Regions from separate parts of the Homo sapiens genome. Here region 2 is linked to region 1. The links come from fine-mapping of genetic effects on gene expression. A gene starts in region 1. The other region holds a variant in brackets. All regions are shown on one strand. Distances are from middle to middle. Region 1 holds the start of LINC01281 (long intergenic non-protein coding RNA 1281). Region 2 holds the start of LOC105373176 (a long non-coding RNA gene).

The links. PIP is the estimated chance that this variant, and not a neighbour inherited with it, causes the effect. A credible set is the group of variants that fine-mapping cannot tell apart.
Region 2: its variant is the best candidate, but not a certain one, in a credible set for the expression of LINC01281 in whole blood (TOPMed, PIP 0.56).

The regions. Positions count from the first base shown.
Region 1 is chrX:39,316,670-39,333,632 of GRCh38, forward strand. It overlaps LINC01281 (long intergenic non-protein coding RNA 1281), which reads right to left and starts at 10,693. Exons shown (of 4, transcript NR_038968.1): 1 at 10,554-10,693; 2 at 5,100-5,261.
Region 2 is chrX:39,372,046-39,389,008 of GRCh38, forward strand. LINC01282 (long intergenic non-protein coding RNA 1282) reads right to left here. Exons shown (of 6, transcript NR_110385.1): 2 at 7,006-7,181; 3 at 4,817-4,937; 4 at 4,442-4,645. LOC105373176 (a long non-coding RNA gene) reads left to right here and starts at 11,608. Exons shown (of 2, transcript XR_949023.2): 1 at 11,608-11,723; 2 at 14,085-14,974. The variant C/T (reference allele first, on the strand shown) is at 8,546.

The DNA.
Region 1 (16,963 bases):
CATTGTGCACATGTACCCTAGAACTTAAAGTTAAAAAAAAATGGATGAAACACAGCCCTTGTCTTTAGGAATTCATAAACTCTAGGGAAATAACAGGTGTTTGCCCAGGTCCTCATAGTGGAATGCTAACTGAATGGATGAATGGGTCTAATGCACAGCCTGGTCTTTCAGGCTAACAGTTTTTCAAAGTTATTGTGCCACTGAGACTTTTGAGAGTGAATGAGGTTGCTAACTAGATAAGGTACTGAAGTAACAGAAATAAACTGGCACTGTCCCAGGAAAACTGGACAAAATAGTTACCCCATTCATGGAAGTCCTATCAATCCATACACCATGGGCATTCCCTCCAGGGCCCACCCTCTGAAAAAGGTGGACATGATTTGAGGCTTGTGGGACTTTCTTGCAAACATATGTGCTCCATAAAGCTGAGAAGCTGCAGATGTCCTTGCAATAAAAATCCATAAACTAACACCTTTTCCTCAGCAACTGAGAGGTTCTGGACACCTACTCACTGCTTAAGCTCTTCTTTTATCATTTATGAGCATTTCCCAAACATCTCCTTCTCAAGCCTTCACAGAAGTCGGTTGAATCTGAAACTCTTAGCAGGTCCCTGAACCACACAGCTAAAAAATTACATGCCATGCACATCTGCAGTGAGGAACGTGAGGCTTTCTAGGGGAGATTTATTGCCTCCCTTCCCTCCACCTCTTGGAAGGTTTCTGGATGCTGTTCCTTGTGTATAGCATGTGCCTCCGGCTTATCACTACAGTAAGTATAAAAGCAATTAATTTTTCCCCCTTTTGGAAAGTGGAAGTTTTAACCGCACTTGAATACCATTTGCATTTCTGATTTCTATCAAGTTCACACTTCCAGCAAAGAGAGTCCTGCTGATATAATTTTTTTATTGCATATTCTCTAGTAGGAAGCTGCTTCTTTTGCCTCTAAAGCAGAAAACATGTACACATTGGGAGGTGCTCAGCTCTTGACCTCTTCTTCAGGTTAAATCACCTTATTGGTATTAGGGAGGCGAGGACAGGTGGGGAAACTTGGAGCAGGGCCCTTCTGCATTTTTATATAGATGCTCACATATGCTGAGCTTGTGAAAATTAGTTGCCCGATTTGAGTGAGGTGGGCAGGTTTCAAAAGCCATCTCTTTGTACCTGGTTGTAATTTGCTCATACATTCAGAGAAATTTTATTAAGACATACCAGATTTATTTCTTGGTTTTTTTCACTGGTTTATATCCTTTTACACTGTTCTGCTTCTACATCATTATTTAGACCTACAGAATATTTAGGTTATGAGGGGCCCAAGGAACCATGTGATCTGCTGATCTTCTCATGTTATAAGTGAGGAGACTATGGTAGGTCGAATAAATGGTCCTGATGCTTCTTCACCCCAACCTGCAGTCGCATCATGGTCATGGCATATCATGGGTGGAGCATACTTTCTACCTCTTGATTTGGGGCCAACTGACTTGCTTTGGCCAGTGGAGTGGGACTTATGCTAGTTCTAAGCCTAGGCCTTAACAGGTCTCACATATTTCCACTTCCTCCTGATACCTCTGCTGTTGCAGAGAACATGCCTGTTGTCTTAGTCCATTTGTACTGCTATAACAGAATACCTCAGAAATTTATTTATTTCATAGTTCTGGAGGCTGGAAGTCCAAGATCAAGGCACTGACACCTGGGTGAGGGCCTTCTTGCTGCTTCTTCATGTGGCAGAAGGTGGGAGGGCAAGACAGATGAACTCTGTGCCCTCACATGGCAGAAGAGCAGAAGAGAGTGAACCCACTCCTACAAGCATTATCAGCATTAATTCATTCATGAGAGCAGAGCCTTCATAATCTAAACACCTTCCAAGAGGCCCCACCTCCCAACACTGTTGCATTGGAGATTAAATTTCAAACATATGAATTTTGGAGGAGACAAAACCATTCAAACCATAACAGCTGTCTAGCCCACTAGCATGTGGAGCAGAGTTAGCCCATCCAAGCCCCAGTCCTGTGATATGAAGCAGAACCACTACAGTCTGAAGCATTGCTGCTAAGCTGAGCCCAGACTAGATTGGCCAAACCCCAGCCGACCCGCAGATCTGTGATACTAATTGTTATTGTTGTATGCTACTAAGACTGTGGGTATTTTTACATGCAATAGCTAACCAATACAGACACTGAAGTTCAGAGGGGAAAGGTGGCCCTGTCATCGTCACACAGCTGGCTTGTGTCAAAGGCAAGATTAGAACCCATGCCCTCTGCTCTTAGCCCTGTAGGAGTTACCCCAGGATTTTCACACACATGTGAAAGATGCTGTTTGGTCGTAGGTCTTGCAGCTTTTGGAAAATGTAGTTTGTAACAAATCGTTGAGAGAAAACAGATGAAACTTTACATGGCTCCAGGGATTAATAATGTAACAGGGATTGTTCCACTTCTGGTTTGAAGTGAATCTGAACTGGCTGTTCCACCCTGTCTCCTCCTCGTCTCTGACAGCTGTGGAGCTCCCCAGGAGGAAGGGTTTAATGGCTTGGGAGCTGCTCCAAATAGCATCTGCAAGAACCAGATCTTGAGCAGCCCTGGAGACCAACAATGACTGGAGCTGAGATTTGGCCCTTTTCTAGACAAGCAGGAAGCCCAAGCCCCAACCTCAGCACTCCCAGACCCAGGCCAGCCTATGTGAGAAACACAAGGAAGACCCTAGAAAGATAAGCTGTCCCCACATCCCAACTCTTTCCCTACAAATGTTGAAATCCCATGTTTAGAACTTTATTTCCTTATGCTCATTAGCCCTGAGATGCTAGTATGTGATGGCATGCACTTAGAGAAGAAGTCACACTTGCTCTTATATTAGCCATTTATACCTCCCTGCAAATAATGATCCCACCCCATTTTCCAGGAGTTACCACCTACTGACCTGTCTCACCTTGGCCTGCAGAGAAGAAATACCTGTCATAATTAGAGTGGCTGGCAGAACTTCTGTGTATTACATTTTCTTACCAGTGGCTGCATAGCTGCTTGCTTCCTGGCATAACTCTGGAGCTTTTATCATACTAAAGGACTCTTTCTTTTCACCATCTTTAAAGCACTCTGTCTTGATATGGGCTTTGGCTCCAGATGGAGGGTGGGTATGAGAAATGGGGAAAAGAAAATCTCAGGATTCCATATAATTATATGTCTGATATTCTATCAATATCTTCCTCCATTCTATGTTATAAGTTCAAGGAAGGGAGAGATTACATCTCTCTCATTCTCTCATATACCTAGTTCATATCACAGTACCAGGCACATAAGGAGCATCAGTAAATATTATACAAGTGAATGAATGAATGCTTGAACAAATGAACACAGCTGTTCTGGTGATAACCCACAGATGACATCTTTGCACACCCAGCCTGCCACAGTTCAGCATGTCAGACCTGGGCCTGTGGGCCCTTTGGCATCTGGTTGAGGCCCCTCTGCTGCTCCCTATGGCACCATGCCACACTAAGCTTGTCTCAACACATCAGTCACTGCTGAGCTGACATCTCTATCAAACAGGCCTCTCATGACTAGAAGATACAGGGAAGAGGATGGAAACTGTGGCAGCCAGGGCAAGTGATCAAACTCTGCTGCCCAGTCCCAACCCTGAATCCGCTGCCAGGAGATGGTGAGCTGGCAGCATCTGCTGCTGTCTGGGACCAAGGCTGTTCATCTAGTGCCTGGTGCCAGCTGGGCAGCAGAGCAAAGTCACCATGCATAGAGGAGTCCAGACTGGCAGGTGCCACCAACTGCCTATGAAAAGGAGGAGAGTCTGACAGGAAGTGTCTGATGAGGTGTTCATGTGGCCTTTATCCTCACTCACTGCCATGAGAGGTTATCCTCACTCATGCCTGAGTTCAGTTCAGAGGGAGCAAGAGAAAAAAAAAAATCCTGTTTTCCCCTGCGTGCTTCTAATTTCTCTAGTCCACGTATACTGCTTAAGTGTGGGTTACCCTGAAAGCAGACTCTAAGATAAGGAATGGGTTCAGGCAGTTTATTTGGGAGATGATCCCACAAAGCATGGATGAGGGAGCAGGGAAGGGAGGAAAGCCAGTTTAGTGTGTGCTAATGAGCTGTGGATGCTTGCTGGAGATCGGTCCTGCTGAGAACCCTCTGAGAAACCAGGTGGAGTACACCTCAGGGAATGGGAGGCTGGGTATTTATCCAACAACTTCCTGCACCCCATTGCTTGAGGATTGACCTCTGGGACATTAACTCCCTTACATTTCCAAAGTCGTGCCTGTGCTGAGCTAAGAAGACTCCCAGGGTGCTGGAACAAATCATCAGGCAGAGAAGCTGAGAGGTACAGGTCCTTGCAGAGGGAGAGCTGTAGTGTGCTCTAGAATTGTCCACCTCAACTGCAATGAAGTCAGGTAGGTCTAGACAGTATGGGTGGGCTATCACCAGGGTCTGCATATTTTGCTTACAAATGTTCTAGAGCTAGAAAACATGGGTCCCAGGCCTCTTCCATGTAGCTGAGAGGTCTTAGCCAAGTAAGCTCCCCCTCAGCCTTGACTATTCCATCCAGAAATACATATATATTAGATTTTGTCCATCTAACTTTGAGGGACTGTTATGGGAACCAAATTAAATCAGAGAATCAAATATGAATTATTTCATTAACATAAAATCCTCTTCCTTTAATTAACTTACCCAAAAAGCTATATTGTTCACCTGTCAGTAGGTTAAATATGAAGAGTTTCCAAGGATACGAGTTGTCAAAGATACTTTAAGAAACTGAGGGTAAAATTCAGTTTCAGATAAGAATGTGTCAATGAGTCAATCTGCAGTGGGTTCCAGATATTTCTCTATATACATTTGGCCACATGGAAAGGAAGACTGTCATTACCTCATTCAAAGAATTCTTCCCAGATTTGGCTGGCCCTGCTTCAGCTTGAGTTATTATCCTCCCCTTCATGCAATCTCCTTCCCCACAAATTCTCCTGTTTCTCAGGGTGATGCTAAGAACTTCTCTGCCTCCTCGGTTCCCCGTTATATTAGTTGAGGCAATGCTGACAGCTATAACTTATGAACATCCACAAACTCAAGGGCTTATGACAACAAAAATTGTTTTACTATCACTCACATGACAATCCAGCCTGGGTGATCCTAGTTGGGCAGAACCCCTCCATACAATGATCCAAGAACCCAAGCACTTTCCATCTTGTGGCTTTGCCATCTTCAACACAAGGCTCTCAAAGTTGCCATCTTCCATACAAGGCTCTCAAAGTTGCTTTGAAGTTGTTCTCTATTTGCAGCCAATTGGAGAGGGAAAAAAAACGGAAGATGGAATGGAAGGTTTTCAACAATCCAAGTCTGGAAGTATTGCACGTCACCACTTGCACCCATGTTCTTTCGGCCTGAACTCAGTTAACATGGCCAAAACTAACCACAAGAGAAGCTGAGAATTATGGTCTACCCGAGTGCCCAGAAAGAAGAGAAAATGGCTTCAGTGGTCAGATAACAATTGCCAACATAGCTTTGATATTTATCTGATCAAAAAAGAGCTAGATCAGGTGGGAGTTCAGCAGACCAGGAGTCATTGCCAGGAAGCAAGTCAAGTCCAGGGAAGTCAGATGAGGCAAGTGATGAGAGCCAAGCAGAGATCATGGTTGAAGAAGCCAGCACTGTAGCTTTATCTTACTCATTGGTGCCTATATACCCACCAACTTACCACCCAGAAATGCTTAATTTTCCTCAAAACACTATAAACTTCCAGGTCTTTGCTCTTATTTCTTCTCCTGACTGGAGCCTCTTTCAACTTCATCTAGCTGATCAATCATATGATAGCTCCAAGGAACCATATTAATGCACTTACTTCTGGCATTAATGCCCTTCTGTAATCTCCCCTTGAATCTGGGCCGGTCTCCTACGATTACCTTTAAGTGACACTTGAATAGCTACAGGCCTAATATTTAAGAAGACTTGGCAGCTTTTGTTTTTCTGTTCTTGGGAGCCTGATTCACTGTCTAAGAAATCCAGCTGACTCTGTAAGAGAAAACACGTGAAAAAAACTATGTGGACAGAGGCCCAAGACTACTTGGAGAGAAAGAAAATCTCAGCTGAATTCAGCCATCAGCCAAACTGCCTGCTGAATTCAATCATAAAAGTGATTACCAGCAAAGCTAGCAGAAGAGTCACCTAGCTGATCCCAGCCCAGATTGCAGAATCACGAGCAAAATAAAACGTTGTTTGAAGATAAGTACTGGAGTGGTTTTAGGCAGCACTGGATACCTGCTGGATACCTGGTTCAATGTCTATCAAGTTTCATGCCAGCCTCTGCCTCTTCTTAGATGCATTTTCCTTATTTCTCTCTCTACTTTCTCTAACACTTCCCTCTTAGCATGGTTAAGAATCTGACTTTTTAGATGCACTTCCACAGAATCCTACACACATATCTCTTCTACCGTTTCTCACTCAGTATCATATAATTTACTTTCTTGTCCCTCTACCTTTAAGGGCTGTGCACTTTTTGAAAACTGGAACCAAATCTTATTCCTTTCTGTGTTGTTTGTGCCTAATACAGTGTCTTCTCAGACAAGTAGGTGCTCAAAAGTGATTCTTAAATAATAAATCACTGTTTCTTAATTTGTTCATGAACTTGAATATAAGTGGTGTCTAAGAGAAAGAGAGACCAAGGGAATAAGAAGGTGTGCCTTCAACCCAAAAATTCATAAAGGAAATTCAGAACAGGTCCGTGTGAGAGAATTGTGCTGGATAACTGGATTCACTTTTCTCAAACTCCAGTTGAACCACTTTCTATTTGGGTATATTGGAAAGCTAAAAACTACATATTGGGAGAAAAGCGAATCCTTACACACTGTTGGTGGAAATGTAAATTAGTACAGTATTATGGAAAACAGTATGGAGGTTCCTCAAAAAATTAAAACTATAATTGCCATATGATCCAGCAATCCCACTGCTGGGTATATATCCAAAGGAAATGAAATCAGTATATCAAAGAGATGTCTGCATTTCCATGTTCATTGCAGTGCTATTCACAATAGCCATATATGGAATCAGCCCAAGTGTCCAACAACAGATGAATGGATAAAGGAAATGTGGTATATATTCACAATGGAATACTATTCAGTCATAAAAAAAGAATAAAATTGTCATTTTCGACAATGTGAATGGATGAACCTGGAAGCCATATGTTAAGTGAAATAAACCAGGCACAGAAAAACAATACATGATCTCACTTATACGAACAATCTTAAAATTTTTTGATCTCGTAGAAACAGTGAATAGAACAGTGGTTACCGGAGATTGAAGAGTATGGGGGAAGAGGGGATAAGAAGAGGCTGATCAATGGGTAAAAAGATGCATCTAGAAAGAAAGAACAAGTGCTAGTGTCCTATTATACAGTAGGGTGACTATAGTCAACAATAAGGTATTGTATATCTCAAAATAGGTAGAAGAGCAGTTTTATATGTTTCCACCACAAAGAAATGATAAATGTTTGAGGTAATGGATATGCTAATTGTTCTGATTTGCTCATTACAAGATGCATACATTTATCAAAACATCACACAATACCGCATAAATTTGTACAATTATTATGTGTCAATTAAAAATGTAAAACAAAATAAACCATATTTTGAACATTACTTTAGAACTAGAGTTCTGCCCATTTGATATAATTCTGAGAGATTTGGAAGGTGAAAGGGAGGTGTAGGTCATCTTTCCAAGGCAATTCAGGTGGCCAAGTAGGCTCTGGCCACATGAATCCTGTCAGTAACTGGACACCATAGTCTGCTGTGTGGTCAGCAGCTTTATGGATGCAGGTGGCTGTGGAGGCAGTGAGAGTAAGTTTCCTGACATCTGGGTTATAGCTGTATGGAAAAAGTGCTGCAAGGGCATGGGACACTGGAAAATACCATTGGCTTTGGTCCAATGATTGCTGACAGGCCTGGTGGTCAAGAGCAAGAGAAGATTCCAATAATTGGGAGACATTATTTCCTCATGTGCCAAGGATACCTAATCAGAGGATGTCTCTGGGAGCTTCCTGAGAACAGGGACCACATGGCTGAAATCCAACATTTCGATTCAACATACCATCTGGAGGAGCTGGGCAGCATGAATACAAGATCAGCATCGGGGGCAGGGAGATTCTGTATCTTGTCTAGAGTCTGTGAAAAGAATCCAAGCTAAAACTCAAAAGATGGGGTACTGTGGGGTGAGTCTCAACACCATACAGTCAACCACATTTTATAACATGGTGTTGATAAGGCTCTGAGTGAGGCAATGTTGATTTGTCAATGATGTATATTTTCCCAGAGGCCAGAACATAAATTAAAATTTACTCTACTTTCCTGACAAAAGAAAATTTTAAAACACCGAACCCTTCCTGCAAGGGACATCTCTATGTAAATGATGGAAACAAGATCGCATAATGGTTTGGAGCAAGGACTTTCACATCAAGAAGACCCGGGTTTGAGTCTCAACTCTATCACTTTCCAGTTGTTTAATGTAAAATGAGTTAATTATCCTCACTGAGGCCCTATTTTTTAGTTTGAAAACCCTCATATGTTGCTGTGATGATTAAATTAAATGTTGCCTTTGAAAGCACATAACACAATGCCTGGCAAACAGTAAGTGCTTAAAAAATGATGGCCACTAACCCAGTGGATTGTGAGAAATAATCAAAAGCCAGTCTAGGGTAATTTACTCACATGGAATCTATTGTTAGCATTTGAAAATTCTTTGAATGATAAAAAAGAGACATAAAATTAAGATATTATTTATAAATATATTTATATTCATAATATAATACTAAATAGAAAAAAATGACATTTTCTGTAACTGACAATGATAAAATATTCATTTTAATATTTAATTATTAAAGGTTTACAATATGCCAAGTGTTGTGAAGCACCTTATATGCACTAAATTATTTAATATTCTGAAAAATCCTATAAGTTAGATACTATTATTACTCTCATCTTACAGATGAGGAAACTCAGGGCACAGAAAGACTAAGGAACTTACCCAAGGTCACACAGCTAGTAGGGTGCTGAGTTCAAATTTATCCCCAGCTGCTCTAACTAATCAGCAATTAACCACTACCATAAAATGCCTCTCATTTGCAGAATATTTTAGGAGAGTTGCAAGATCAGAACTTATTTGTAAGCAGGAATTGTTCTGTTATTAAAAAACTTACAACAGAGACTAGAAAAAGAAATATATTGCTCATGTGAGTAAATATTTACATACACCAAAATATTTATGTTCATATATGTGAGTACTGCTTTCCACAGGGGGAGAGGAAAACGTGTAAATATTTACTCACTGGAAATAGCTGACAAGTAGTTAGGAAATAAGAATATTTATACTGTACATTGGTTTTGTGCTGTCAAATTGTTTCATCTGGAGTCTATGCACTAATTCCCAAATTGGACATGCAATACAAGAATCCTGAAATTGTAAATTCAGAGCTCCATTTGGAGTTACCTAACTTGGTTGTGAGACTAATTTCAAAACAAAGTTAATTCTGATTTTTCTAAATCATATTTTCTAAAAATGTACACTGCTTTTTAAGATGTCCTGATTCTTTCTAGGAGAAATTATCCTTAGGCTAAAAATCAAAGGCCCTGTCTTTATGCCCTGAGCCCCATGCTGTGGGTTCTTGCTAGGAGACATACTCTGGGGACCACTCCTGGGCCAATAGTTAGAAGTGGTTGGGAAGCAGGTCAAATAGTTAATAGGCCAGACAATGGCCCAGATTGCTAGTGACTCCCAGACAGCCAAAGATAGAAAAATTTTCAAATAAAAAAATTACATAAGTAGTTGGGATTTTGAGAGATATTATAATGAAATAGAATTCAAATAAATGAATAAATATATATTATGGACCTAGTGTACTGGCTTTGGACTGACACTTTCACATGCCACTGTGTTTAGTCCTTACTGCAGCAGATAACTTTTGTATCAGTTGGATAACCTTTAACTGCAAATAACAAAAAATCTCAGTGCAACTGATTCAAACAAAGGATTTACTCCCTCATGTAATAAGGAGGTCTAAAATGTGGATGCTCTAGGATTGGTTAATTCAGTGATTCACCTCAGTCATCTAGGTCTTATGCTCTTTCTATCTTTCCCTCTGCATTCTTGGTATATTATTTTGTCCTTGGCAAAATCGCCTCATGGTCGCAAGACGGCTGCTGGAGTTCTGGAATTCATTTGCAGATATTATAAGGTGTAATAGAAAAAGTAGAGTTTTTATCTCAATACATCTCTCTTTATCATCCAAATCTTTCCCAGAAGGCTTCCAAAGCCTTCCCCTCCCAGAGCACTGGCCAGAATTAAATTACACACCCATGAGTAACCAATCACTACCAAAGGGAGTGGGACCATCATACTTAACTTAGGCGAATCATTTCTTGTAAATTTGAGAATTAGGGCATAGACTCCAGTTCTCTGGCTCGTGAGGCCAAGACTACAGCCTGCTTCCTTTGAAGCATGTGGCCTCACTGAACAAGGAGGATTCCTGAATGACATTGAGGTTTTGTAAAAAAGGATAAAGAAGGTAAAAAGTTACCGGGTAGGCAACAGGGTCCACTGCATCCCATTTGAAACGTGGGGAAAACGAAGCTCAGAGAGGTTGTGACGTGCATTTAATAAATGCTACAGCTGCAATCCAAATCCAGAGTCTTTTTCTGTCAATACCATGGCTGCCTTAAGTATCTCCAACTGCTGTTGCTTTTATGTTACTGGAACAGTTGGGTGCGTGGGCACAACTGATGTTTTCCACTGAGCTCCCTTCTCTATTTCCTGTCTAGACGATTGTGAAAGGGCTGCTTGTGTGAATTTAATTCACTCATAGGCATTACCCACCTGCCACGGGCTACAAACCTCATTCCTCCCTCCTTCTCCAGCAATATTGTCAAGAGGCCACACTTTCCCTAGCTTGGAGATCTGCCCAGAGGAGCATCTCTGGACCTAGGCGGGAGGAGTGAAAAGCCAGGGAAAGGACTATGGCTCCTTGGCCAGCACTATTTTTGCTGCAGGTGCCTGAGCTTGTCCCACACTCTGTCTCCACCATGCTTAGATTCTGGCTTCCCAGTGCTCAGTTCCTCCAGCTTGGGTTGTATATTGCCTGTCATCCAGCTCCCTGCCCCTCTGGCCCCTGCAAAATATATGCTCCTCTTTCCTTATGATGATGTCTTCAGTATCTCTGCATTTCTGGAGCCTTCCCTGTCTCTTTGACATAGACCAGGGTGCTCCTCTTTTCAGTTTCCTTTGCCTTTAGAACATTCCTCCCCTCCCACTTAGGGTATTGTCTTATATCAGGTTGTCATATATTAGTTTGTTTCCACATTATATTGTATTTCCTGGGGATGAATCTACATCTCTTCATCTTGGCTCAGTCGGCCCCAGTGAAGATCAAAATATCTTTAGCATAGTGGCAACCATCTTCCTTGCAAGGTCTATACACATAAGTTTTTACACAGTTTTTGTGAGACTTTTAATAAGTTTTTGTTTATTAGCTAATGAAGGAAGAAGGAGATTTATTCATGTTTGTTTGCTTTGTTTATGTGTTTGGTTTGTTTGCTTGTTTGTTCATTTTTAATGCTAAAACAGTAGGAGAAGAGAGAGAAGAGAGATAAGAGAGTAGAGAAGGGGCACCATGGCAGAGGCCACTGGTCACCTGCTTAAATACCCTAAATATTTTCCCCTTCTTTCTTATTAATGGAACCTTCATTTTGTTCATGGTGGCCCAACTAGAAGTCTATATTTTGCAGCTACCTTCAGCTAAAGGTAGCTACATGCTACAGCTCTGGCCACTGAAATATAAGTAGAAGTTAGTATATGGGCTTTCAAGAAAGCTTGCATGGTAGAATCTTTTGTGCACGACCCAGATCTCTCTTGTTGATCCGAAAAGGTCTCCGTGATAAATCTCCCACATGCTAATGTCCATCTAAGAGTCTGAATTCTGGGCAGCCCAGCCCATGACAGCTCCTTAAAAAGGGAGACTCAGCCAATTGATATTTTTTGATCTTTGACCTTCTTTTTCCTACCTTGTACAAAACATTATAAAGAGGGCAGAGAGCCATCTTGTGACCGTGAAACAACAAGCATAAAGTTGAAAGCCACCCATTCAGGACAGCCAAATGAAAGCATGAAGAATCCCCCTGTCTTGGTGGCATTGTAGAACCATGGTACAGTCCTAGACTGACTGACTACCCCTGAATTTCGCGGTCTGTGAAAAATAGAAGCAAATCACAATTTGACTAAGCCACTGTTATATGCAATAAAACCTATTTCTACCTGAAACAGCTACCAATAGCACCTGAAGGACAGTTTTGAGCCCTTGTTAAAGAGAGAGTCACTCGCTTAGTAGTCAACAAACAGTCAATATGTCTCTTCTATTATCTTCAGCTCTGTGCCAAGCATTGGGGAAATAGCATTAAACAAGACAGGCAAGGTCCCTGCTCTCATAGAGTTTACATTTGCATAAAGAGAGACAGAGAAATATGTAAACAAAATGAATAGACAAGGTAATTGCAGAAAGTGATACAGGCTATGAAGGAAATAATCACTGTTTTTTGCTAATGTATAACTTGGGTGGGGGTAAGGGTCTGCTTTTAAAAAGGTGGTCAGAGAAAGGCTATCTGAGAAAGCAAAGGCGACATGATCTTTAAAGACTGAGTAGAAGGGAGAGGTGTGAAGATAGGGGAAGAGAACAGAAAGGCACTGGGGAGGGTGGACCAGTGTCTGAAGAACAGATAGGAGCAAGGTGTGCCTCAGTCTTGGTGAGCACAAGGAAGTACACAGGCGTAGATCACATAGGGCATTGCAGAGCAAGGCAGTGTGCTCAAATTCCAGTACTATTATAATGGTGCACCGCTGAAGCAACAGCCTGCGGGATGTTCCATTTTGGCTGCTGTGAAGAATCGGCTATAGTGGTGGCAAGAGTAGCAGTGGAGAGGCCATTTAGGAAAACAGGTGAGGGAGGATGGAGGTTTGGAATAAGACTGTAGCAGTGGAAATGGAAAGAAGTAGATGGATTTGAGATTTTGGAGGTAAGTCCAAAAGGACTTACTTCTGGACTGGATGTAGGGAATGGGGCAAAAGATTAAAAAATGATTTCTAGATTTTTGGCTTTAGCATCTGGAAGAAAGTGAGGCCATTTACCAAGATGACAAAAATTTAAAGGGAATACATATGTGATGAGGACAATTAAGAATTAAGAATTCCATTTTTTTTCTATGCTAAGTTTGAGATGTCTGTTAGAAATTAAAGAAGAGATGTTAACTGATATTGGGGTGGTGAAAATGTGTCACTTAGATCTCTTGCTGCATGAAGCAAAGTTGATTGATGGTCCCACCTTCTACATTGCACACTGAGGCCACATTTGCCACAGGCTGCTCCCAGGCAGTGACTGAAGACACCAGGGATACTAAAGCAGGTCCACTCCTGCAGGACATGGGGACTCCTCTGACAGGCAACCTTGGCTCAAGGACTCTTCATCAGCCTGGCTGGACATTTTCTGGAATTCTGCTACAGTCCAAGACTTTTTCTACCCAAGTCCCCTTCCTTCACTCTCCTTCCACAGGTGTCAGACCTGCATTGCTCTCTGGAGGCTCCACCTGCTCTAGCTCCCTACCTGCTGTTTTACTTGACAGGATTTTCCTCCAATAAATCTCTTGCACTTGTAATCCAGTCTGTTTTTTGGAGGACCCAAATGAACAAAACTAAGCAGGTTATCTATAAGCTTGGAGGGGTCTGTGCTGGAAATGTAAATCTGGAATATAGATGCTTCAGTATTCAAAGTCATGAGACTGTATGCGATCACCTAGGAGTGTAGGTATAGATAAAGAAAAGATGACTGTGAGACTAAACCTTGGAGTTATCTTTGTAGAAGTTGAGTAGAAGACAAAGAGCAAAATTTGTGTCATGAAAAATGAGGTATGGAAGTATTTTAAGAAGCAGGGAGGGCCAGGCATGGTGGCTGGTGCCTGTAATCCAAGCTACTTGGGAGGCTGAGGCAGGAAGATCGCTTGAGGCCAAGAGTTCAATACCAGCCTGGGAAACAGTGAGACCCTGTCTTTACAAAAAACAAAAACAAAATTAATTAGCCAGGTGTGGTGATTTGCACCAGTAGTCCCCGCTACTTGGGAGACTGAGGTGGGAGGATTGCTGGAACCCAGGAGATTGAGCTGGCTGCTGTGACCTGTGATTGTGCCACCATACCCCAGCTTGGGTGACAGAGCAAGACCCTGTCTCAAAAAAATTTTAAATTTAAAAGAGAAGAAGAAGCAGGGAGGGCCAACTGTGTCAATTGCTTCTGCGAGAACCAGCACAATGAGGGATAAGGAGAGTGTCCATTGGATTTGGTAACTTGGTAACTTGGAAATCAGAGCATGTAAATTTGTTGGGTTAGTGTTGAAAATATGGAGGCTTCATGTCATTATTTCCACTTTGTTAACAAAGAATGACATGAGAGCATAAGCTTTTGAGTAAGGAGTTGGGGAAATGTACGTTTGAAGAAAGAGAAGAAAGTGTGAAGTAGGTTTATCAGAGGGCAAATTTAACAAGCTTCCTAAGAAGGCTTGCCATGTGGTTAGAATGCTATTTCGAGGTTTGTGGTTATATATTTAAAGTGCAATCAGTTAGACCATTTGGGTAAAGGTCAACATGGAAAAGGCTGATTTCATTATAAAAGCATGTGAGACAGAGACAAGTGGAACTTTCCAGGACCCAAGGGATAAAAAGCCACCCAAGTTTGGAGAGGAAGTCATTCTTTCCCCATATCTTTTCACTCTAGATCTCAATGCAACTTTGGCACTCTAGCACTTCAGGGTTGGCACTGCCGGAAAGAACTGATGTGTGGTGGAACTGTGAGTATGACCATAGTCCCCAGGGGAACCACATCTTCTCAGCAGCGTTGGAGCAGGGTCCATGAAGAAGAGTCATCTCCTGAATGGTTGACTGGTTGTGGTTCTCCTCTAAGATGCCAAAGTTACAAAACCTGAGTGGACTTCTTCTCACAGTCAAAGCTTTCTCTGAGCAGTCTCAGAAAAACCTGGAGGAAACTTTATCATCCTGTAGCCTTTTCGGTAGAAACAACATGCTGTTGCAACTTAAATACTATGATGGTTAATTGTATGTGTCAACTTGGCTGGATCACAGTGCCCAGATATTTGGTCAAACATTATTCTGGTTGCTTCTGTGAGGGTGTTTTTGGATGAGATTAACATTTGAATGGGTGGGCTTTGAATAAAGCAGATGACCCTCCCTCATATGGGTGGGCCTTATCCAATCAGCTGATGGTTTGAATAGAGCAAAAATCTGACCTTCTCTGACCAAGAGGGAATTCTGTCAGAACACTAGCTTTTTCCTGGGCCTTCAGCCTCTGCTAACCTATCCTGCAGATTTTGGACTTTCCAGCTTCCATAATTGTGTGAGCTAATGCCTTAAAATAAATCTCTCTCTATCTCTGTCTCTGTATCTCTGTCTCCCTCTCTCCCCCCGCCAACACACACCCACCCACACCCACACACATCCCATTGATTCTGGTTCTCTAGAGAACCCTAACACAGATATAAATTCTAGTATGACTTATGTCTTGTCCAATAGTACTGCTATAAAAGGAATACCCGAGGCTGGGCAATGTATAAAGAAAATAAGTTTATTTGGCTCACAGTTATTCATGCTGTACAAGAAACATGGCACCAGCATGTGTTTCTGGTGAGGGCTTCAGGAAGCTTCCACTAATGGCAGAAGGCAAAGGGGAGCTGGTGTGTGCAGATCAATTGTGAGAGAGGAGGCAAGAGAGAGAGAGAGGAGGAGGAGGAATCAGGCTTTTTTTTTTTTTTTTTTTTTTTTTTTTTTAACAATCAGCTCTCACAGGAACTAGAACAAGAACTCACTCATTACCATGAGGGATCTGTCCCTGTGACCCAAACACCTCTCACCAGGTCCCACCTCCAACATTGGGGATCACATTTCAACATAAGTTTTAGAAGGTCAAATAACCAAACCATAGCACCTCATTTGCCCTCAAAGCCTGTGGAGGTCTAAATACTAAAGTTACATTTTTTATATCCAGAACCTGAAGCATTATCACATAAAAGTAGTCTAATTAGTGTTTGTTGAATAGATGAACAGATAGATGGATGAATAAGTAAGCAGAAGGAAGGAAGAGTAGATGGATGGATGGATGGATGGATGGATGGATGGATGGATGGATGGATAACTGAATAGATAATTGGATGATACCGTGGTGGAAAGAGCACTGAGCTTGGAGTCAGATGTTTTGCATTTAATTCCCAATATTGCCGCTTCTTAGTTTTGTGACCTTGAATATTTCTTTATTATTGAAATGGGAATAATAATAAATAACAATACTTGACTTATCAATCCCATAGGAACCTTGTGGCAATTAAGTTATTTGGAATGAAATGCCCCCAAAAGCTAATGCTACCCTAGATTGCATTCATAAACATACAGTACTCATATCAAAGCTCCAATAGTCCCACAGTGCTCTGCAGCATTGAGACAAGTTGAAGTATCTATTGTATGTCTTGAGAACTGATGTTGTTTTAGAAACTATGAAGCACTCCATACCTCCAAAGCACTTTTATTATCACCTTTATTTTTTCACAGTCTCTGATCCCATTTTTTAATTCTTTCTTTACATTTCTGAAAATTTGAGGACTTTCCTTGCTACCTGCCTTCCTGCTGAAGAAGCTAGACTTTTTGGACCAAATCTGTGGTACGCTTGGCTTTTTATTATTCTTAATAAAAAGAGGAGTTTATTGGTTTACATATATCAGAAATATAAAGCTTTGCTTGTAGCTAAGAGTTCAGATTCCAACTCTGTCTCCTTTTCTCCATCTCATTTTGCTTTCCTTGGCATTAGCTTCATTCTCAGGCATTCTTTTTCCATGTGGAAAGATAGTGTGCTGGCCTTCTGTCGCCTGCAGTGTTCTTTGAGTCTAGCTC
Region 2 (16,963 bases), 55 kb after region 1:
CACCAATTTAGAAAATCAGAAAAGAATAGTCATTAAAGATTCTCCTATCTAATCCCTATACAGCGTCAATGCCTAAAGCACCACCTTTCTTCCCCTTTTGATGCCCTAAACTATCTGATGATGCTGGAAAGTTCTAGAGTTTAACATCCAAATTACTTGCGCAGATGGTCTGTCATGTGTGGAAGTGACTCAACAATCCTTCACTGAACCACATTATCATAAGTATGAGTTTGAAGAAAATAGTCCCTTAGCCCCAGGGCAATGCATCCTTTAAGTTATCAAAGCATCGTTTGTAGACGGCCTTCATCCTCTCCTGGAATGTTAGCAGAGTGAGGCAAGCAAAGCTTGAATTAGCATGTCTGTGTTTCTGTTTGTGCTCTTGTTATCAAATATATTGTCATGAGTACATGCCTGAGCCAAGAAGCTACAGGAAGAAAGATGTAAGGAGCATAGCCAACTCACCCTAGTTATCCCAAGCAAAGCCATTCTACATCATCTGATAACCTCCCAAGCAGACCCTCAGACATATGATTGAGCCTAGCCAAGGTGAGCAGAACCATCTGGTTGCCCCACAGCTGACTGCAGCCACATGAGCAAACCCAGCTGAGACCTGCTGAGTCCTGCCCAGAGTGGCCCAGAGTGGCTGAAACTTACAGACCTGGAAATGAAATAAATGTTTATTATTATATGCCACTGAGATTTTAAGGAGGTTTTTGTTACGCAGTATTATTGTGGCAATAGCTGGCAGATATAACTCCATCCATCCCAAGTTGAAGTCTCTCTCTCTGTGAATTTCCATTGGCTGTCTCTGTATCAGATTTTCTCACTATCCTAATTCTTTCATATTCACAAGTGTCACCTCCCAGACCTAACTGGTGGACTCTTGATTGTTTAAGTTTACATTTCTGTTTCCTTACAGATTATTTAACAGCCACACTGAGCATCTAGTAGACCTTCAAAATGTTGATGTGATTTCTAAGCCCACATGGATTTCCAATGCTACCACTATTTGCTTTTCATAGTTTTACAATGTGAGAACTAGAAAAGAACTCAGAGCAAGTCCCTCCTTTTACAGATGAGAAAGCTGAGGCTTGGAGAAATTAAATTACTTTCCCACAGCCACATAGCTGGCTGGAAGCACAGCTAGACATACTGGCCAGGTTTCTTGGTTGGGATTCCAGTGTTCCTTCCCCCAGAAGTGAAGCCCTAATCAATCAGTTTCCTTAATTGACTGGCAGAGGCTGCCTGGCACCAGTGTGATGAGAAGGATTCTGAGGCTCAATCTGGACATAGTAGGAGACAGTCCCATGATCAATGAGCCAAATCTTCCAGAAGTAAGGAAGTAGACATCACTATCTCTGCCAAATCTGTTTATTGGTTAACCTGTTGGCTTATATTTATGATAAAGATGCCATTTTGTTTATTTCACTTTCATCTAGCTCCTGGTTTGAAGTACACTTTGGAAACCTCCGAAGGCTCTGGTTCATTCCTTTCTGTGTGTGTCCAAGATAAGCAATCCCTTCCCCTTGCTGCAAGGCAGCATTTTAAAAACCCTTCTTCTAGTGTTACCTTTCGAGGTAGTGAACACACATAAATGAAGCCCCAAACCAAAGGAAGGTTTCAGATCTGAAAAAATCAATGTCAAAATCTGGCATTGTACACTGACATTGAAGCAATGGGGACATCATACACTGGAGGGACAGGCTGTTGACTTTTCTGCCTTCCCTGAAAAGTTGGGTACTCCTTGCCTCAGTCAGTGTCATTCATCCCCAGGTTAAGAGGCAGGGACTGAATGCAGCACAATCAGCCTTGAACTACATTTAAGGGAGCTGGTAATCAGGCCTGCTGAGGAGCCATGGGCCTCTGGTAGGGAAATCTCATGAAAGTAGGATGAAACAGGGGCTATATTTTTATTTCTTTCACCTAAGAAAATTGAAGAATCCTTTCCTAGTGTCCTTTTTTGCATGGATCTTAACTTAATGTCACTTCCTCAGGAAAACCCTCCCCGATGGCCAAGATAGGGTCAGGAGCCCCATTGCTTGTCTTTTTTCCTTTGTGGCAAGGATATTTCATTGAATCTTAGATCCATCAATATAAGACCTCCCAATATTTTATGTACCAAGCAGGGGAAAAAATGCCACCATTTAAATTATAACTCAATGCTTTCATGCCACTTAGAATTTTTATTGTATAGTTATTAAAAGAGTACTTTAAAATGTATTTATACAGATTTGTATGATATAGCACTCTTGTGCAAAGGAAAATATACTTGAAATTAACTGGTTGAGGTAATGAGGCTTAACTTTCTTCACATGTAGAATTCAAATATTTGGAACCACTTTGTGAGTTGGTGTTGAAGCTTGTGTGCTGCCACCCAGGCTTGGTCTTTTCACTATTGCCACCACACCATCCATCACCTCTCTTTCTACCCCAAACCACCAGGATATACAAATGAGTAACACCCTAGTAAAGAGACAGTCCACACACAAAAATCAATACAATGCAAGAGCATATCTATGAAAACTATAGTAGAAGTATGCACTGCTCTGGATAAAAAAAGGGAGGAAATTTTTAATTTGATTGAAGATATCTGGAAAGTCTCGAGGGCGAGACATGGCATTCGAAGGAGGGGAGAACCTCCAAAGCTTGAGATGGAGGAGTGGCATTTCATGGGGGAGGGGAGGAATAGCATAAACCAAATGTGGTGCTCTGTAAGTAATATATTCTCACAATAATGGTTGATTCCTTTTAGTTAGAAAATAAAATGAGCAATCTGAGTTTCATTCCATGGGGAAAAGGAAGTCACTGAAAGTTCTCCAGCAAGGGAATGTCTTGCTCAGCAACACCCTTTAAAAGGGTAACTTCTTGGGAGTGAATAGGGCAGCGTGATGTGAACCAAGAAGGGCAGCAAGGAAGCAATTAGGAGGGGCATTAAGGGGCTGGGTGCAGTGGCTCTCGCCTGTAATCCTAACACTTTGGGAAGTGGAGGTGGGAGGATTGCTTGAGCCTAGGAGTTCAAGACCAGCCTGGGCAATTATAAGGAGATCCCACCTCTACAAAGAATACAAAAAAGTTATCCGGATGTGGGGGTACATGTTTGTGGTGCCAGCTACTGAGGAGGCTGAGAGAGAAAGATCGCCTGAGGAGGTTGAGGCTGCAGTGAGCCATGATCACGCCACTACACTCCAGCCTGGGTGACAGAGCAAGACCCTGTCTCAAGAAAAAAAGAGAGAGAAGTATTAAGGGCCTAATCGAGGGCAGGACTGGTAGGAATATAAACAAAGACCAATCCATTTGAGCCACATTGTGCAAGGAAAACCAAATGATTAATCACAGGGTATCAGAGGCAGGCAAAAGGACAAGAAGAGGGAGCCCACTGAACAAGTCCCACAGATGTTTAAATCCAAATGACCGGGACCACGTGGGGAAAAACAGCAGGCCCTGGCAATGTGGATCTAGGCTTAGGAGAAGGGACTAAATTTGGCAATGAACGAAATGGCCCAGGCAGAGGGCTATAGTCACAAAGAAGGTAGCTCCAGATATGAGAAAAGTGGGGGCCCTCATGCATGAGGCTTGGGTTCTTCCATCAGCCAGTAACATCACGTGCCATCAAAATCTCTCACAGAGGCACAACACACTGGAGAGCAGCCACCATCCCCGTGGTGTCCAAAGAGATCACTCTTTCTTCTGTGAGCCACTAGAGAAGGTAGTTGGCTTGCACTGTGTCAGCACTTTATATTGAAAAAAAAAACAATAATAAGCTGTGTTTAATATTAAAGTCATATGCAGTGGAAGGAGACAGTCACATCAGGAGAGATAGAAACAGAGGAGCCTAGAGAAACCAAGGGAAACTCTCCCATCCCAGGCAATCAGTGTGGAGTCACCACCATCCCCCGCCACCTAAATTGTTCTCCCTCTCACACTCACTCACATATAGCCATGGTATATGGCTGATCCCAAAAGGGCTGCTTAGCTCCAGCCATCATATCTGTATTTGCAGTCAAGATAGAAGACAGAGAGGTGATGCCAGTTCTTTTAGTTTAAGTAGCTTCAAAAGCAGAGCCCCAAACAAAAACTTTGAGTGCACATAGTTTATTTGGTAACTGATCCCTGTATGCGCAAGAGGAAGCAAGGAGAATGAGAGAGTAAAGACGAAAATGACAATATAAAGGCATATTAAAAAGGTTACTGCCTGGGGCCCTAGAGGCTCAATTGCACCCAGACCTCCTGATAACTGTACACAATGCCTCCCAGAAGTGTGCCCCCAAAGGACAGGTGGCTGGAGCATCTATCCACTAGGCCGTGTTCCCCATCGATTAAGGGTCGATCCCAAGGGCATGAATCTCACACTTCCAAGTTTTGTTTTTATGCAGGCCCAGTGGGCTTCCATAGTGTCAGAGAAGGCCCTGGAGCAGAGAGCAGAAAGATGCACAGCACATACTTGAGACTGGATGCTGTCTTGCATGAGGTGAATTGGAACACACGGAACTGTCCACCACAGCTGTGACTGAAGTCAGAGGTGATTAGACTGTGGGCATGGGACACAGGGCATGCCACCGCCATCTGCCACATCAACAGACCTCCCAGTGTCTTATTGCTGGCAGAAGGAGAGGCTGAGAAATGAACATTTTAGCTCTTCCAGCCTCTAGAATAGAAGCAGAGTGGGGAGAAAGGGATTGGAAAGGGCTGTTAGCGGAGCAAAAAATATATAAGATTTCAGATTCACTAAGGACATGTTAGATTAGATCATCTACTGTGAATGCATCATTTTATAAATGAGAAAGGAACTGAGTCCTGGGTAGAGTGAGTAACTTGCCTGCCCCAATCCTGTAGTTGGAGTAGAGCTGGGGTTTGAAGCAAGCCTTCCAGGTTTGAAGATCTTTCCACCTCTCCATAATAACCCTCTTAGGCTGCAAAAGAATGTCTTGGCTGAAAATCTGTTTAAAAAAAGAAAATAAAAAAGCTCCTGAATAACTAAGGTGGGCTCTGTTGTCACAAGACCTGGAACAATAAGCCTAGGCATTTGGACTTGGTCTGAGAGACAATGGGGAGCCATTGTCGAATCTTAAACAGGATCATGGCAATTTGAGTTGCTTGTAGGTAGATATTATATAAATATAAGGAGTTATTTCTCTGTTGATTATGGCTGCTGATTCAGCCAAGGGGAAATGGAGTTCTGGACAGGCTTGTACCTCCAGCAGTGACTGCAGGTGCTGTCAAAAGGAGGTGCAGGCTGCTGTCTGACATTCTCAAAAGGCCCCTGCTCTCCTGAGAATGGCTTGATGCTTATTGCTAATAACAAGCCTGGCAGCCAGCTGCAGCTTTCACTCAAAATTCTCTGGCTTTCAGTAATCAAAGCCAGGCCTGGGTTGTTCCTTGGCCCTAGACTGCAAAAGGAATTTCCTTTATTTTTGAACATGGAGAGAATAAAAAGAAGTACAAGTTGTTTTATAAGACAAGTAGGGCAGCAATTTGAAATAGATATTTAGGCATCTCTTAGGGATTAACATCGGGACTCATTTAAGGGCTTGGAGTGTTAATAAGGATGAGATGTATTTATTTTTCCCTGGGTTCTTTTTTAGGAATCCCTGGGCAGTGTTCTGGAATTGATCTATACTGGCTCAAATTTCACATGTCCCCCCATTTTCCATGCAGACTCTCCCACCCCTCCTTTTGACTGAGTTGTGCCTCCTATTAACTTGGAGAAAATGCCCCAACCAGGGTGCACAATTGGGCATAATTGGTACCCAGAAATACTGTTCACTGGGTTGAGGCAGCTCAGCAAACAAAATGGCCTCCTTTTACCTAGGGAATCTGGTTTGAAAATTGGACATTAAGTTACACTTCTAATTGAAATGAATTTGATGGTTTCAGAACAGTCCCCAGTGATCCCAGCCCACATCATAAAAACCACCATAGGCAAATTGGCACCATTCAGCCTTGGCTCAAACAGGCTAGGGAGTAAAAGAAGATGTAAACTGAATTTGTGGTTGCTTTTATCTTCAGATAGACAGGCTGGGGTTGGGGGAGCTTCCAGAGGGGAATTCTCGGAGTGGATTACATCATTTTCCTGACAGTCTGGGAGGCAGTGGGGTATAGAAGAAAAGCACTAGATTAAGAGTCTACCCTTGTCTCAGACAGTAATTCATGTTCATTCTTTGGTAAGTCATAACATTTTTTCATGCCTCAGTTTCCTTGTCTGCAAAATGGGAAAACTAACATCTCCTTGCCTCATGGTTGGTATTGGGCCCAGGCAATGACAGCTGAATGGTTTACCTAATGGACTGAAGAAGCCCTCAGAATCTAGGCCTTCTGATTGCTTGGCTGGTGTTCACCCCACCAGCTGACATCCAAAGGACAAGATGCTTGTCTGTCTTCCCAGGAAACTTGGCTGTGAGGTTCAATGATCTCAAAGCAAAGAACAATGACAAGACAAGAAGGGTACTAAAGGGTGGACACTGACCTGTCACCAAGGCACTCTGAGCCACCTCATTATTCACATCAGTTCCTTATTCATCTCAGGCATATCTACCTAAGCAACAACACACATGTATTTTGTACCAACTATGAAAGATGCCAGTTCTGTAATGCACATTCATGCCAGGCACCCTGCTAGGATATTCAAACCTTCCTCTCTGCAACCATGTCAGGTAGATTTTAATACTCCCATTTTATAAATAAGAAAAGTGAGGCACAGGAAGATCACACAGCTTAGCCGAGGTCACACAGCAGTATGTTATTGACTGGAAATGTCATATGCCATGGCCTGTCTTCCCACTCCACTGTGTTTTCAATCACTGTTCTAAGGGGAAAAGATAAAAATGAAGAAGACCCAATCCCCACTTTTAAGAAATTGATAGTCTAGCCACATATCTACACAGAAATATGTGTGCACAAGCAGAATAAAGGTCTGAGGGGGAGGAAAGAGAGATTATTAGTCAGCTATTGCTGCTGTAACAAACAACCCCACACCTCAATGATTAGAAAACAACAATTCTTGCTTACTTATTTTCAGGTTGGCCATGGGTCGGCTTATGTGGCATGGGTCCCACTGAGCAACTTTGGTTTTGGCTGCAGATCTGCTGGGCTTGGGTCCTTACTGTGGAATGGGTTCAGTTCAGCTAGTCATGGACCCACAAGTGAGAGTGGCCATTTACAGGGGAGAAGCTCTTCTCATGGTGCTGGCAGAGATACAAGAGGTAAAGCACAACCACATAAGCACATGGCAAGATGCTGCTTGGTTCATTTCTACTAACATCCTATTGGCTGAAGCATGTCACATGGCCATGCTCCAAAGTCAAGGGGGCAGAGCAAAGGGTAGAGAAGGATACAGAAGGGGTGAAGAATTGTGTCCAATAATCTATCCTACACCAGAAGGCTTCAGTTTTTACAGTAAAGTATCTGCATATTAATTTGAAATGATAAGCATGTATTATTTTTAAATTTAAAACTCCAATTTAAAAATACCATCAGCCTTCTCTATCCATGAGTTTCTCATTCACGGATTCAACCAACCAGGGATTGTAAATATTTTAAAATGAATTAAAAGTAACAATAGAACAATACAAATATTACAAATTAGAAAAACAATACAGTATAACAGTCATTTACAGTTGTCCCTTTGTAACCACAGGGATTGGTTCCAAGATCCCTGTGGATACCAAAAATCTCGATGTTCAAGTGCCTTATATAAAATGGTGTAGTATTTGCATATAACCTACACACATCCTCCCAGATACTTTAAATCATCTCTAGTTACTTATAATCCCTAAGATAATGTAAATATTATGTAAATAGTTGTTATAATGTATTGTTTTTAAATTTGTATTATTTTTCATTATGGTATTGTTATTTTTTACTGTTTCTTACAAATTTTTTAAAATGTATTTTTGATCCATGGATTTAACTGTGGATACGGAGGGTTGACAGTACATAGCATTTACATTGTATTAGGTATTATACATAATCTAGGGATAATTTAAAGTATATGGAGGATAAGCATAGGTTATATGCAAATACTGTACCATTTTATATAAGAGACTTGAGCATCCAAGGATTTTCCTACTTGAAGGGGACCTGCAATACATTGTAAAAACCATCTCAGGGAGGTTAGAATGAACATACCCCAAGGTAATATTTCCTAACCCATCTCCTATATGCCAATTAAAAAATTTACACACACACACACACACACAATACTACAATATAATGGTTGCTGTAACATAAATGTGTTTCCAATGCTATGAGAACCCATATGAGAGCCATTTTTCATTCATTCATTTATTCATTCAACAAATATCTATTTCATATTACTATGTGCATAGGCATTGGAAATGAAGAGAAAAACAAAATAGGACTGATCACTGTCATCGTGTAACTCAAAAGTCGAAAATAGGCTCTGAACATATACAACTGGAATGAATTAAAGGAGGGGTGGACAAAGATATGGAAACAAAAAAGATAAATAACTCATTTACATGAGGAGTATTGCAAAGGCTCCTAGGGGTTGTGTTCCAATATCCTTTCCTTAATTGACAGTCAGAAT[C/T]CTGAATTGTAGCTGAACAATGGCTACCTCAGATAATGACAACAGTTTCCAACTTTCCTTGCAGCTAGCTATGGCCATTACATTTTGGGCAATAGCTATAAGTAGAAATGGTGTATGCAACTTCCAGAAAGTGCCCTTCTTTCCCCCTTATCTTTCCTGTTGGCCAGAATATGAATGTGATAATTGGAATCAGGGTAGCTGTCTTGGACCATAAGTGACTTTGAGAATGGAGACCATAGGGGATGAAACAAGATAAAAGGAGCCTGGGTCACTGAAGACTTTTTGGAGCAAAATAGCCAAACCCACTCTGTACTGCCTACCTCTGGGCATTTGTGTGAGCAAGAAACACACCTCTATCTTGTTTAAATCATTGTTATATTGAGCTTCTGTTATTTGCAGTTAAACTCACCCTAACAGATAAAGGAGTTCAGGGGCAGACCTCCCTACAAACGTGAGAATAAGCTGATACCTGAATGGTGAGTGGATAAAAAGTGCAGGTTAATCTCTTCCAAGAAGAAAGAACAGCATATGCAAAGGCCCAGAGGTGGGAGAACACAGGAATTTAGGGCAGATACAAAGGGGAAAGAGGTAAAGGATGGCCATTATGAGCTTAGATCCCATTCAGTTACCCATACATTTGTTCCCTACACCTCTCCTTTCCCCTGTTCTCCTTCCTTTCTTCCTACTTCCCTCTCTCCCTTTATTTCTTTCCCCATCACTCCATCCCTTCTCCCTCTCCCTCTCTGCCTTCATCCCTCCTTCCCTCTCTATCTACCTTTTTCACTTTTTTTTAGAGAAATATTTATTGAGTACCCACTGTGTGCCAGGCACTGTACTAGCCACTGGATGCACACCCTCATAGAACTGACAGTCTACTAGAGGGACAGATATCAATGCGAGAGGTGGGAGTGAGAGAAAGAGCATGTGTTGACTTCCTATGGCATATATGAGGAAGCACTGTTCAGATCCCCTTTCAGGGAAAGATTTGCTGCCCAACTACGAGAATTGCAGTTAGCTGACAGCCTACAGCTGTTGGCTTCAGCAGGGTCAGCCTCAGCTTTTGAGCTGAGGTCACATTCCTCTCAGAGCGGCCCTGGGCCAGCAGCTGAGCAAGGAGGTGGTATTCTCGGCTGGCCATTTCTGCCCAACAAAGGGCTGCTCTCATGGGCACCCTTTGCTCAGAGCTGCCACTAGGCTGACAGGAACTTTTCAAATCTGCATTGCGATCTTCCTGGAGAATCCAGCCTTCCATAGGCCTCAAGGCAGGTGAGAGCTCATCATAATCACTGGAGGAACCAAAGGAAGACCTAGTCTGTCTGGAGCACAGAGAGGGAAGGGAGAGTTCTGGCAATGAGACATGAACTACAACACCATGTGTGACTTAGGAGGAACTGGGGTTTTATCCTAAGTGCATTGAAATAATGCTGAGAGGTTTTTAAAATTCACTGTAACTGCTGCATGGATTGGAGAGGCCAGAATACCAGTTATGAGAAACTGCAGTCAATCAAGGGAATAGCTGGAGGGAGCTGCTTCTAGCTTGGTGGCTGCGGGAATGAAAAGCAGTGGAAGAGATGTCCTGGGAGTTTGTGGAGGGAGAATGAGCAGTACTTAGTAGTGACAGATTAGATCTTGGAGGGAGGAGGGTGATAGGAAGAAAAGTATCAAAGGCAAGCAACTGAGTAGAGGGATTTGCCCTTTCCTGAGATGATAACAGTTGCGAGAAAAGTAACAAATTCAGTGGTGAAAATCAAGAGCCGAATTGTGGCCATGTGGGTTTTGAGACTGTTGGATACACAAACCTGGAGTTGAAGACTGGTCTGGCCAGGAGATAAAAGGGAAGTTATCAACATGCCCAGGGTACTAGACGCCCCGGGAGCATATTAGGAAGCTTAAGGAACTGCCCCCTTCCCTCCAGGCCATCTTCTATTTCTTCTTACTTCTATGCTCCCAAAAGCGTCTTCTTCTTTTTTTTTTTTCTTTTTTTCTTTTCTTTTTTTTTTCTTTTTTAGACAGAGTCTCTCTCTGTTGCCCAGACTGGAGGGCAGTGGTGCAATCATGGCTCACTACAGCCTTAAATTCCTGGACTCAAGTGGTCCTCCTGCCTCAGCTGAGAACCTGGAACTACAGGCTCATGGCACCACTCCAAGCTCATTTTTAAATTTTTTGTAGAGATGGGGTCTCACTCTGTTGCCCAGGCTGATCTTGAACTTCTGGCCTCAAGCAATCGTCCTGCCTCAACCTCCTAAAGTGCTAGGATTACAGGGAGGAGCCACCGCACCCAGCCCCCAAAGCTTCTAAAGCCTTATTTCATTCCAGGGAATCTTCTCAGGTGGAGAGGAGACAGGGTGCTGAGAGAGGTCCTTGTACTCCCTACTCCCATCCTTAGCTTTGCCCTTCAACCAAAATACACTTTTGTATGGTGAGCCTTTTGAGTAATTGGTGCATTCTACCACCCTTACAGATAAGACTCTCTCTGTCCTTAGGATCAACTGCTTCCGAGGAGGAAGGTGTGCCTGCTCCAGGACAGCCCAGGGACTTCGGAGGGTTGCCCTTCTGCCTGCCTAACCCTAAAGTGCTCCCCATAAAACACTCTGCCTGCTAATATCTAGACTGCACATCACAGATATGCAGTAAACGTGTGTTGAATGTATGAGGTCATTTTATTATTTGGTTGCCCGATCAGTGTGTCTGTCATAAAGCCCATCTCTTCGATTTTGCCTTTCAGCATAGATGAAAACAAGCTGGCCATTATTTTCCAGGCAAGCACTTGTCAAATAAATGTTCCTCATAGAGATGTAGCTTGCTGCAGAGTGAAAAGCGTGGGAAGAGAGCCCCATCTTTCTCATCTGTATAAAACAGGATGACAATCCCCACACCACACACTTTACAACTGAGTTGGTATGAAGAGCTAACAAAAGTCCTCAGCCTAACAGTGCTTTGGGCTTTACAGAGAGACAGTGGGCTGATACACCATTGAGTTCTATTCCAACCCAAGTCTGATTCGTTGAGTGGAATAATCCCAGTTCCCCTCATTTTTCCTTAGATATGACACTTTGCAGCAAAACATTTGATGCCTGCAGGCTTTGGGAACTGGCAGTGATTCACAGACAGCAAGCAGGATGCTGGACATTGGTCAAACTTTGGCCCTGCACACCTTCTCCCACTACCAGTTATGCTGGTGAGGAATTTCCTCTTTCCCATTGTGTTATGTGGGTGGGTGGGATGGTACCTAAGGGGCCTCGCCACTCCCCATGGAAGCCAAAGAGTGTTCTCCTTCACTACCCTCATCCAGCAAAGGGCAGCTATGTGACCTCATCTTCTGAGAGGATCTTGAGCAGTGAGCAGAGTGACACACAGCCAGAAGAGGGTTTGCAGGACACTCCTTTGCCCCAAGAGCATTGTCCTGCACCAGCCTCTATAGTGCCTGCCACACAGCTGGGTTCCCACCCGGTGTTCCTGCCTCCCTGTCATTTATCTAAGCTCCCAATATCATCCTTTAACAGTCCCTTTTGCCCAAGGTAGCCAAGAGGCAGTTTCTGTCACTTTTGCCCCCCAAATTTCAAACAGATACAGGCAATTTCTGAAAGGGGCACTATGTTATCATCAATATCCAGCATCGCTGAAGAGGAGGATTAATTAGTGACAACCCTCTTACTTCACCTATCATTGGGGCGGTCCACAGAGGATTTATCCCTGAACCACTAATGAATTTTCCAACTGTCACAAAACAATGCAAATAAGTAAGATCCACATCTGCTGAACACCATCATGAGGTCAAACTGTGGGTAAATAAATACTTGCTTCAAGGAGAGGGTAAATCCTAAGGTGAGGAGTGACAGGGCTTTGTTTGCATAAACCCAGCAAGGTATTATGGGTAGGATATTAATTAAATCATGCTCCTGGGCCTCACGGATCCCCAGCTCCACGGCTTCAGCTTGTTGACAAACCGAACACAGGGCCCCCAGAGAGACCACTAACATTTTGATGAACAGGATTTGTTGGGGGTGATGTTTCCTAACTAGCGTTTTAATATAATTTTTGACGCTTCATCTGAGCAACCTGGAAAGAATATGCAGTTAAAAGAAACGGACAAACGTCAAATTTACAAGAGAAGAAACTACCATCTAATGTTAGTCCACTGGAATTACTTCCTGGGAATAATGTCTTGCTACCTTCACCCCACCCCAGGCCTTCCTGAGACCTCCTTTTTTACCCCTCTCCCTAAACCTGGGAGAACATCTCTGAATAACATCAAGGCTGCCTCAAGTTTAAATGAACTTTTAATGAGTTTTATAATCTTCCCAAGACCCTGTAAGTCTTTCCTTTTTGTTCTTCTTTCCTTTTTGAAGAAATTAACATGATGGCAGGTACTGTCTTCAGGGAAAGGGCTTTTATTTTCAGGTTAAAATAAAAGACCTCATCTCAGCTGGAATGGAAGATTGGTGATGAAAAGACCCTCTGTGGCCACCAGAAGTACCCGCTGTCCGAGAGATGCTGACCAAGAACGTTCAAGCTCCTTGTAATTGGTCTACCATCCCAACCATTCCCATCTTCATTTGCACTACACGGCCTCTTTCAGCTCAAAATTTCATGCTTCGTTTGAAGATTATAAAGCCTCTTTTATCTGAGAATATGCAGACAAATATGAACTAATTAATGTTCCTACCAGCCCCCTGGGAGTGTGCAATTGTCCTATGACCCACTAGCTTCCTGGGCATTCCCTGACGTTACACTGCTGCCCAGTATCAGGCATCTTTGCTAGTCCTCCCTCCCCTCACCACCCCCAATCAGCAACTGTCAACCCTGTTTCCTCCAAAATACCATTAGAATCTCCCCACTTCACACCATCTCTGCCTATTTCCAGCTGGTTGCTTGCATTGACTATGGAAACAGACCTCTCACTTCTTCTCTTGCCCCTTCCAATCTAATTACCCAATTCTCTGCCCAACAGGCAGAGGGAAATTACTAAGACATAAATCTGAAGAAATCCCTTTTTACCTGCAATGAGTCTCTCACCTAAAGCCCCTCCCTACTATTCCCATCCTCCCCTGCCTGACTTTTGGTTTCTCAAACATACCAAGATCTTTCCTGCCTCAAAACCTTTGCACATGCAGTTCCCTTTTCTAACACTTGGACAGGAAGGTAACCAATTATGGATGATGTTCTCCATGAGCTAAAGTCTAAAGACTTGTTTTAAGTCTCTGAGTTTTAAGGTAGTTTCTTATGCAGCTTTGTTGTGGCAACAACAGCATCAAACACTCCTTCTAATAAGAGCACGTGGATTTTATTTTAGAGATCTACCTCATCCACCCTTCATCCTCATGATTCTGGTGAGGATGACCCCACTCCTGGAGTGCAGGGTTGGGGCTCATCCTCCAGACGTAGCCAATCAGAGCATTCTATCCCTCTAGCCAGAAGAGCTGGGTCAGACTCTATATGTGACCCAAGCTAGGTCAACAAGATATATAATCCTGGAAATTTCCCTAGAAACGATTAGAAAGAAGAAAAAGTCTTTCTAACAGAGTTTCTGTGCTCCTAGGTGAGAAGACTACAGCTGTCACCGGGAAGAAAGAGCCTGCCTAAAAATCAGAGGGCAACGAAACTGAAAGGAAAGACACAGAAGTCTAATGGCATCAACTGAGTGCCTGGGCCCAGCTATTCCTGATGATTTACTCCTGGAGTTTCCGACTTTATACACCGACACATTCTCTTTTTTCTTAAGTTATTTAGACGCGGTTTTCAAGTCACTTGTGACTTCAAAACTCCTGACTTTTACAAGTTCCTGCTTGCCTCTAGTCCAGCCCCGACATTGTACTCCTGTCTTCAACTGTGTGTACCCTAAGTCCTTGCCTTAATTTTCTACCTATTTCTCTTGTGCTTCCAAGTCTGTAGCCTTATCTTTAGGGCCAGCCTATCCCTTCCCTCTTTCTAGAAATCAAATAGGAGGCAACAGCACCTTTCAGAAAACAAGAATGGAATCTCAAAGTCCCAACCTCTTTATACTTTTCCCATGATCAGTCTGCAACATTAAGACAAGGGAAAGTTTGAGCAAGGCAAATGGCATGATCTGGACGTGGCAGGAAAAAAATGGGACAGACTCCGTTCCAGTGCTTTGAAAATCTGTTGGTTGTAAGATCTGGAGAAGGAACTCAAGTTCCAATAAATGTCACTGAACAAATTGTACGATGTATGGAGCTGCCTAATGTTTCATCTGTTTGGATGAAATGGTTGTCTTTAAATAAGCTAGGTGCAAAGTTTCTAATAACCACTGTTTTTCAGCATGTCTCAGAGCTCATGTTGTTAATCAAGCAAGGTTAGCTTATTTTTATTGAGTAAAGGATGTGTTAAGAAAGGAATGGTTTTGCATTTTAAGCAAAATGGATGAATAATGAATGAATTTTAAGTAAATAAATAAAACCTTTAAGTGACTGTTTCTCTTTCAGAGAAGTCATTGATGGAAGCTATGTACTGATTATGATGATGCTGTCATTACTCTCAACATTCCTTCAATTCCTACTGTGAAAGGCAACCCTCTTTAGGTTGTACAAATTCTAGTTTGGTGGCTAATTAAGCCATGATACTAGTTTGAGATTTTTTAAAATCTTCATTCTCATCTCTCCCTCTCCTAGTGTTTGAGGACTGATCATTCCTGATCTTAGTAACAGAGTAATTCATGTTGGCAGGTGTCATTTAAGCCCTCGTAGCTTGTAACTTCCTGACACAATTTGGAGTTAGCCCATTCTGGCATTCTCCTGCTGGATATCACCTACATTCTTAAATCTTAATGATGTAAAATTATTCTACATTTTTAATGATCCGTTGGAGCTGTTTCCTCCAAACCATTAGCAATACAAGAGGTATATAGGAATTTGACTTATTTACAAACTCTGTACTATTCTTTCTAAACAGTTTCCAAGGAATACAAATGCACTACATATTGGTTACTAAAAACTGTTTGGGAATTGGATTCTTTAAATATTATGAAGAAATAGCTGATTTTCTGCAAGTTTGACTTTTTCTCAAAATGAAAGCATGTGCACACACACACAGAGGTGCAAAAGCTCCCCATCAGACAGATGCAAGGCACCACTCCATTAAGGCAGGCAGTGACTTGCTAATGATCTATATCAGCCCTCACCTATATGGTACCTACTAGCCACATTTGTGACTATCTAAATTTAAGCTTACATGAATTCAAATTGAATACAATTGAAAATTCACTTCCTCAGCCTCACTAGGCACATTTCAAGTGTTCAATAGCCATGTGTGATGAGTGGCTACTATCCTGGACAGCACAGACATCAAACGTTTCCATCATCTCAGAAAGTTCTATTAGATAAGGCTGAGAGGGAAAGAGCACAATCTGCCTTTGTCACTTAGTAAATGACTTGGGCAAGTTTCTTTACCTCTCTGAGCTCCCTTTTCCTTAGCTGTATGATGAGGATAATCATAGCTGTCTCACAATGGTTTTGTGTGAGAGAATTTAGGGAGCCCGTGTGTGTAGAAATGCCAAAGACAGGCCAGTGCTCTACTCCTTGCTTCCTGGGCTCCCCAAAAGGGAGCTGACTCCTCATCCCTCAACCTGGAGAACCAGTTCAGCTCTTCTTTTCACCAGAATCCTTTCCCTGCTTCCGACTCATCTTCTTTTTCTCAAAGCTGTTGTAACTGTATTGTTCTCACCTGCTTTGCCCAAGACAGATTCCCCAGTCCTCCCCATCAGTGTTTGGCATTTATTCTGGGTGTTCTACTAGTAATGCCCAGCCCCGGTCCTGGGCTTCCTGCTGTTTCTATTGCATCTCCCTAACTCTTACATCCACCCCAACTCAGTGTTTTTGGCCTTCCTCAGCAACCAGGAATCTAAACCACCCTCCACCCCATAGCACCCTATGGATGACGGAGCCTTAGTTCTTGATGGTGATGCAGACACCTTGAGGTGTGGCCATGACATTCACTCAGCCCTTGGCCTGGTAGCAGCAATTTTCCCTGATAAGGTCCCCAAACTGACCCTCAGTTGTCCCCTGCAGTCCCATTAGGGCCTGTGGAATTTACGACTTCCATACACAGCACCAGGAAGTTGAGGATGGCTCCACGTGCTAGCTCAGTCTCTTTGCCCTCTCTCTGCCTGTGGCAGATTGTATTTTCCAAAGATGACTGCACCAAAATATTCCACCCCATGTTATCTTCTTAAATGTGAAGTTCACACTAATTCTTCAAGAAATGGGGCCTCTGTTTACACCTGCTGAATCTTGGCAGGCCTATAATTATAGTGGTTATGATTCTAGTGATGCTATATGACTTCTGAGACCATAAAAAGACAATACAGCTTCCACCTGGTCCTATTGGAACAGTCATTCTTGGAACCAAGCCACCATGTTGTGAGAAAACCCAGCCCACATGGGAAGGTCACATGTAGGGATG